Linked DNA regions of Homo sapiens. The gene in region 2 interacts genetically with the main gene of each other region. Each region holds a gene or a part of one and is shown on either strand. Other genes may lie near its edges.

Evidence for each region.
Region 1: changes in TBC1D31 (region 2) and ZNHIT6 together harm fitness less than expected from each alone (positive genetic interaction), as found in Homo sapiens cells (one large-scale study listed by BioGRID).

Annotation. Positions count from the first base shown.
Region 1 is NC_000001.11:85,705,546-85,710,090, forward strand, and holds the start of ZNHIT6 (box C/D snoRNA protein 1), read right to left. Parts: upstream 2,889-4,545; 5' UTR 2,740-2,888; coding exon 2,084-2,739; intron 963-2,083; coding exon 897-962; intron 811-896; coding exon 704-810; intron 619-703; coding exon 533-618; intron 1-532. UniProt on the Homo sapiens protein: Required for box C/D snoRNAs accumulation involved in snoRNA processing, snoRNA transport to the nucleolus and ribosome biogenesis.
Region 2 is NC_000008.11:123,149,150-123,152,941, forward strand, and holds the end of TBC1D31 (TBC1 domain family member 31), read left to right. Parts: intron 1-886; coding exon 887-979; intron 980-2,656; coding exon 2,657-2,790; 3' UTR 2,791-3,004; downstream 3,005-3,792. UniProt on the Homo sapiens protein: Molecular adapter which is involved in cilium biogenesis. Part of a functional complex including OFD1 a centriolar protein involved in cilium assembly.

The DNA.
Region 1 (4,545 bases), on a different chromosome or scaffold from region 2:
TACTCTCCTCCTCACTCACTATGCTTCAGTTACCTTGCAAATCTTTTAATTCCTCAAACCAGACATCCTTGTTTCTGACTCAGGTCTTTCCTTTTACTTTTGTCCCTACCTGGGATAATCTGCCTCCAAATGTTCACATGACAGCCTCTTTCTCAGCACTCAGATCACTGCTTACACATCATCTCTTTGAGAAGCTTCTCCTGACCACTGTATCGAAAATAGTACCCTGACAATCTCTCCCCAACAAAGACCATTTTCATTCTCTCTTTAATCTCTTGAGCCTTCTTTATTTTCTATATGAACTTAACTCTATCTGAAATTACATTTGTTCCTCTACTTATCTCCTATATCTCCCACTAAATACAACTCCACGAGGGGACGGACTTTGTTTGGGTCACAGCCATATCCTTAAGTAATCAGAATAGCTCTACATCATGGTAGCCACTTAATATATTTGGTAAGTTAAAAAAAAAAAAAGAATCTAATTGATTTGAAGGACTTCTAACTGGAAGAAATTAGGAAAAAATCTTACATATTTATTGCTTATTGGTCTCTTCAAAAAAGCATCTCTAGAAATATGGTCCGCTGTTCTTGCCACATCTTCCAAAAATCGATAATCTAAAAATTTCAAAACAGAAGAATAAACAAGTGACATATACCAATGGCCAGGAAGCCTCAATTTGCTATGCATAAAGTGGCTTACCACTTAGGAGATTCATTTCAGTAAACTGTTGTATTGAAATGTATGCAGTTTTATCTCGAACTCCATTACATGTCAGTTCTGCTTTGTGTTTCTTTACACAGGGCAAACTGAAAAGACAAAGGGGAAGTACTTTTATATTTTAGGGTAAGAAAGGTACAGATACAGGTTAAAAGGTAGGAAGTTACATGTATACCTGCAGGAATATCGCATACAACGTGGACATCTGTACTTTGCTTCTTCTGTACCACAAGTCTCACACCTACAAAAGCCCACATGTAACATTAAATTATCAAATATTAATTGTATTTATTTATAAACTTAGAATTCCCAATCAATTTATAAACTCAGTGACAAGTAACTGATAAAATATTTGATAGCTGTTGAACATCATTTGAAAATTCTTCTCTATGAAACCTTCCCAAAACAACTACATTTCCAATGTTGTTAGTGATATGTAACTCAGGAAAATGTATTAAAATTTTTAAAACCCATCTCGCTTTTGACTTCTTTTTCTACTATAATCAGGGAATGAGATTATTCACTGATATTTTAACTTGTGATTCCTGGAAATGTGGTAATGATTGTATGTGTGTGTATCCAGAAGTCCAATTCATGAGCTATGTTTAGATATTTTTAAAGCACACACCAGACAAAGAATATAAGGCCAAGTGAAATTTAGAGAGTAGTAGTAGCACCCTTTTTCCTGAACTCCACGCCTAATCTAGAATGAGCATCGAAATAATCTAGAAATGCCATGTAACCCATCATCTGTCCTCAACTGCTCTTCTATGCTCCTGGGATACTGACAACCAAACTACAGTTACTTCTATTTAGCCCACTGTGTTCTAGACGGGAATATTCTCAAGAATCTGACTACTCTTATTTCCTTTGTCACATGATCCACACACTAAGGAAATTCAATCAAAAGCAATAAATATTCACAGCACCCATGAAGAAGCTTGATAATTGAGGTCAAGTGTATTTTTGCCTAGTTTTAACTTAATCTACTTTGTCATTGTTAGTTTTATTAGACTTTCTCATCTCTATTCTCTCTCAAAGGAATACCGAGTAAAGAGCATATTAAGTCAAGCCAGATCCAGTTCCAACTGATCTTTTGGTCCCCAGAATTTCCACTTTCCTAACTTGACCATTACCCATTGGACACTACTAATTTCATGTATTTTCACTGAATTTGTTGTGTTGTCATGTACAACACCCTCCACTTCCCAACCCACCCCCGCGAACGCCGTCTGACTCCAGAAACCCAAACTTGTGCTCATTTTTCATTATTCCACCTTCTCCTGATAGTGTGGTTTCCTTCACTCTAGACATGAGGACTCCACAGCTTTATTCCCCTAAATGGAATCCCCCATGCCCTACCTTGACATGGCCAGTTTCCGCTTGCAGCCCACCGGGTGATTTATCGGAGGCTCTTCTTTCACCTTTGTATCATCCACGATTTCTTTCTTCAGGAAATCCTTCTCTTCTTTTACACACTCTCCATGCATCAATTCCTCTTTTATGCATTGACCAACAAACTTCTCCTCCTGTTTTATCTCCAAGTTATCCTTCTCTTCCTTCACTTCTGACCAGTCCATTACCTCTTCCTTTACCTTCTCTTCCTTTACCTCTGGTTCACCCACCTTCGCTTCTTTTACCACTAAACTACTATCCGTCTCCTGCTTCACCTCCAATACGCCTGCGTTCTCATCCTTCACCTCAGGCCTATCCTCCACCTCCTGTTCTACCCACTGGCCAGCCAACCTGCCTTCTGTACCTGGCCAGTCTATAATTTCCTGCTTCACTACCGTTAGGTCCATCGGTATTTCCTCTGGCCTTTGTCCACTTCCTTCCTCTCCATCCCCTATCTCCTTTATCCCTGTCAGCCCTGTCCCCTCCTCTCCGCCGCCGAACTCCTCCGCCCCTGCTAAGTCCCTTACTCCCTCCCTGCCAGGCTCTGGACTTAGCCGCACCCCCTCAGCTACGCTGTGGAGACCTCCCCCAGACTTCCCTTCATTTTCAGCAGCAAACTCCATCAACTCACGATCCTTGGCCTCTGCTGCCACTCTATCCTTCAATGTGGCTGCTGCACACCAATAGGAGGAATTACCGGTCGGAATACCTACGGCGGCCCACGTGTGGAGCCAAGCAGCCACAAACCCGGAATAGCCTGCTTGACGCGACTGCTCGAATCGCCGTAAAGCTACGCTTTTGCGCCTCGCCCCTTCACGACTTGTAGAGCTCTTTACGGCTCTGCGGAGGCCCTGCCGGATTCTCTGGGCGAACAAGCGTAACTGCGTGACTTGCCCGCTGGGGTTCTCGTCTCCTTCCTGGTTTCCACCACCCTCTTCCCTTAGAGAAGCCTCCTGGGCCACTCCCTGGGCCACCCTCCACGCCCTGCTGGGTGTAAAGAGTGTAGGAGACCGGCAGAGGGAGAGAAGCGAAACCCTTACACTCTGGAAGTGGGAAAACCCACCCTAATCTGTGTTAACCATTAAATCCAATCTTGCATGAAAATGGAGGACACACCTGATGTTATTAGGCCTTTCCAAGCTTTAGTTTCTTAAAGCTATAAACTAGGGACCATGGTATTATTAATATAAATCTCCCAGTGTCATTGCAAAGATTATATGAGATCATGCATGGAAATCAACTAGCAGTGACGGACACAAACTCGATATATAACTGGGAATCCTGATGGGCTTCAAACCGCCTGGTTTCCACCACCCCCTTCCCTTAGGGAAGCCTCCTGGGCCACACCCTAGGCCACCCTCCACGCCCTACTGGGTGTAAACAGTGGAGGAGACCGGCAGAGGGAGAGAAGCGAAACCCTTACACTCTGGAAATGGGAAAACCCACCCTTATCTGTGTTAACCATTAAATCCAATCTTGTATGAAAAAGGACACACCTGATGTTACACCTTTGCAAGCTTTAGTTTCTTGAAGCTATAAACTAGGGAGCATGGTATTATTAATATAAATCTCCCAGTGTCATTGCGAAGATAATATGAGATCATGCATAGGAATCAACTGTCAGTGACAGACACAAACTCAGTGTATAACTGGGAATCATGATGGGTTTCAAGTAGGAAAGAGGGCATTAATTTTTCTTTCCATTCTTTCTAAGTAACAGCCTGCGTCAGGCTATTCCCCATTCCCAGCATTCTGCAGGATTCTCTCAGAGAACATCATAAATATATTAGGCGAAAGTGCCTAATGCCCGGTATTGCTGAATAACATTGCATTGTATGAATGTGGCACGTTTTTTCATGCATGTACCAGTTGGTGGGCATTTGGCTTGTTTCCAGTTTGGGCTATTACGAATAATTCTGCTTCCACATTCATATGCAAGTCTTTGTGTGGACATGTTTACATTTCCCGTTAAGTAAATAACTAGGAGTGGAATTGCTGGGCCATATAAATTTATGTTAATTTTTAAAGAAATGCCCAAACTGTTTTCCAAAGTAGCTATACCATTTTACATTCCTACTGGCTGAGGGTTCCTATTTCTCTACATCCCGGCCAATTCTTAGTATTATCAGTTATTTGATTATAGATGTGTAGGGGTACGTCATTGAGAATTTACATTTCTTTAATGACTAATGATGTTGAACATCTTTTCATCTGCCAACTGGCCATTTGGATATTTTCTTTAATGAAATGTTTATTCAGATCTTTTGCCCATTTTTAATTGACGTCTTTTATTATCAAATTGTAGTAGTTCTTCATATATTATGGATATAGGTTTGTGGTAGACAAGCACCAGTATGTTCCCCAGTGATTCTCCACCCCCACAGTGTTCAGACCAATGTGTAGACTGCTCCTGCATCATCCCAGGATTG
Region 2 (3,792 bases):
ACAGTGCAGATTGCAGATTACGTTTACTACCTCCGCCATGTCCCGCCCTTCAGATGTTTGAAGATGACTCTTAGATTCCAGTCCCCCACCAGTTCAAATTAGTCATTGGTGATTAGTCACATTACTTTAATGACTCATTGAGCTAAAACTATGAGGTAAAACCATTAGCTAAAGCTTTTCAGAGAGGTAAAAGGCAGACATCTTACCGATTTAATGAGACTCCCAGCATTCTGGGCTCGACACATGGAGCTTAGATGCTAGCGGTGGGAGTAGAAAGGAAGGGACCATTATAAGCCATGTCAGGATGCAAATGTTTTTAAAAACACCTTGGTGTCATACTGGATGTGCTGCTGTAGGAGTTAGGGAACAGTGAAAACACAGCTGAGGGTGAGTGTAAGTTTTGAGATGAGGAGAGTAATTGATAAAAGTAGGGGAGGCACCACTAGTTGCTAGGGCACTGCCCTGCCTGCTACTCTAAGAAGGGTTCGGGTAAAACTTGCCTATGGCTGGCTCTGATTTGCTGTATGTTGTGATGAGGCCCTGCCTAGCTAAAACCAGTAGTGATCAGCTCATAATAGTTTCCAGGGAAGCCTTGCTGATCACATTTCGTAATCTCTATCTTAATATCCATATTTTTGAGTTTGTTGGCTTTTTGTTTTAGCTGAAAGTGTTTTTAAAGTACGTTTTACAGAAATCAGCTCAGCTCTTAATTCTCACTAATGACACTTCCTTGCCTTTTGAATGTTGACCGCATTCTTCTTAAAATAGAAAAGAAAGGAGTTTTTAGCCATCCTTGGTGATTGTAACTTACTAGGGACCATTTGGAATTAGTAAGCCTTTCTACTCACTCCCAAACATCATCTTAATCTCCTCACTTTTATAACAGAAGAACCCAGGTTCCAAAATGAACAGGACTCAAGCTGTTTGCCTAGAACCTCACAATTAAATGACTCTTCTGAAATGGATCCCTCAACACAGAGTAAGTTGATAAGCAAGAAAATGTTATTCTGCCATTTTAAATTTCACAATATTTAAGCAAAATTGTGGCTTAAATTATATTTATAGCATGTGGACGCCATTTTCCCAGGGCACTGATAATGGAAATCCTAAAAGGGAGGCAGCAAGATTCTCTCAGATTCCTCAGTGGGAGAACTGGGTGCAGACCAAATTCCAAGTAAAGAAAATGTGCTGAATCCACTAAAGCCACTCCAGTTCTTGAGCACCAGCACTGCTGCCCAAAAACATAGTTGGAGGTTCTAACAGAAGTCTCTAACTAGGTTGATAATATGAAATTCATAACTATTTTGACATCCTTGTGAAAAAAAATCTCAGCGTTGTTTTTCAAAGCTATTGCATAGTTGAATTTTCTTGACTCTGTTCATTTGGGCTGGGCTCCCTCCAACAACCATTGAAAACATGTGTCTGCCCTGGGCACTCCGATGGAATTCTGGGCCCCAGCAGCAGTAGAATGGCCAAAGGCAAATGGCTTCATGCTGATGAGCTGACTTTTGATCCCTGGACGTGGTTCATTGGAGGGTTTGGGGTTTTTTAGAAGGGACAGGGTAGAAACATCTTACAGAAATGTAATCACAGCATTAGGCCATCCATAAAGAAGCTAACAATCTTCCCAGTAAAGTATATTATTTATTTTTAAAAGGGAGGAGGAGAAAAGACACTCTGTTAAACTTACTTTCAACTATTTTTTTTCAATAAAATTGCCATATAGATGAAGCAGTATTTAACAAGATCTTTTGACTTCTTTTGGAAGAACAAACTTTTATACAATGTCCCAAAAAGACGAGCTTTATAAGAAATATGCCTAATACCAAGTCATGAGATTCCAGTATTGTGTAAAATATTTTTGCTAACTCACATTTTTATATGCATCTATAAATTCTGTGCCAGAATATGAATTAAACCAAAAATCATTCAAGAGTCAGATGAAGTATGAGAGATTCTCAGCTACTCTCTATTCTGACATATCAAATGGTTATTTGGCAGCAAAATACAAAAGCATGAAAGTTGTATTTCTTTGGGAGGAAAAACAGTTTTTCAGAAATTGAAGCTGACTGACTATTTGAATATGTAACTAAATTTCAGAGAAGTATATTTTTAAGGGCTTTTAAAAAAAATTTCAGTGTTCACTAGCCCCTCTAAATCAGTAACGCTCTTACACTTGGACATGTTGTAGTATTTTAATCTTGATTCTGGACCTTCCTGATATTAGCCAATATTAAAAAGCATTTGATTTACTTATTTTTATTTATTTATTGGAAAGGTAATCATGGTGTATATTTCACAGTTTTATGACTTGGAATGCCTTTTCTCATTACTATTAAGCATCATTGTGAGGAAGCTTACAGTTGCACAAACTCAAATTCTCTCTTAAATTAACAAGCTTTGTTTCTAACTTAAGATTGTTTGTATCCCAAGTATTTCAAAGCAGAGAAGTTCTCTGTTAGCATTCATTCAGTCCAACAAATAATTATTTGGCTTGTAAATGGAACCACCTAGGGCCAGGTTATATGTAAAATTTAGGTTTTAGAATTGCATTTCATTATTTGTTTTTACAACACATTTATCTTTAAAATAAATGCTGTATCACCGCTAACATCAGAAAACTCAGCTTTTCTAAATTTTAAATTTCGTTTTCAAGTTTCTTTAAATAGAAGAGCAGTAGAATGGGACACCACGGGACAGAATCTTATTAAGAAAGTGAGAAATCTTCGCCAGAGACTCACTGCCCGGGCTCGTCACAGATGTCAAACCCCTCATCTTTTGGCTGCATAGAATGCATGTCACCTTGAGACGGTCGAGAGAGAGACCTATTTTGCAATCAGTGACATTGATTTTTAGATTATTTATTTAAAATTCCTATAAAGATCAGCCCTTTGTACAGAAAAATGTGTCTATAAAAATTATGTGTTATTTAATTCTGATACTTTTTGGCTTGTAAATGGCTTCTTGAACTTTTTACAATAAAAATGTTTTAGAAACTGTTAAAGCTGTGTTAAGCTTTCAGGTTGCAGGGACCAGCATAAACCTCAGTAACTTTAGTTGATAAAGGTTTATCTTAAAGATGAATAGAGAAATAAAGAACAGGAAACCATCTCAACAGCTCTATAGCCTGGACTGAGGGAGAACTCAGCAGCAGGTGGAGAGCGCCAGCAGCGTGGAGTGGCCTATATCACCATCTTCCTGCCCACCCCCGCCTCTGCCAGCGGGACCCCCTCTTTGTCAGGGACCCCACCGGACTTGTAACATCTCATCTCTGCCCAGCTCCTTCTGCCCTCTGCCTGCTTCTTCTGGCAGCACCGACTGCTCTTCCTCCCTCCCTCCACTTCCTAGCTCCAGAGTGGGGCTGCTTGTGACTTCCTGAACCTTACTCTCTAAAAGGAGGGTAGAAATACTTGATATGACGATTCAGTAAGATCAGGCAGGCCAGACGTGGTGGCTCACACCTGTAATCCCAGCACTTTGGGAGGCTGCGGTGGGTGGATCACTTGAGGTCAGGAGTTCGAGACCAGCCTGGCCAACATGGTGAAACCCTTTCTCTACTAAAAATAGAAAAATTAGCCGAGTGTGGTGGCACATGCCTGTAATCCCAGCTACTTGGAAGGCAGGGGGAGGGGAATCACTTGAACCCAGGAGGCGGAGGTTGCAGTGAGCCGAGATCACGCCACCGCACTCCAGCCTGGGCAACAGAGTGAGACTCCATCTCAAAACAAAAACAAAGATCAGGCCTAAAAAGTTCCTGGCCCAGTGCTTGACACATAGTAAGTATATAATATG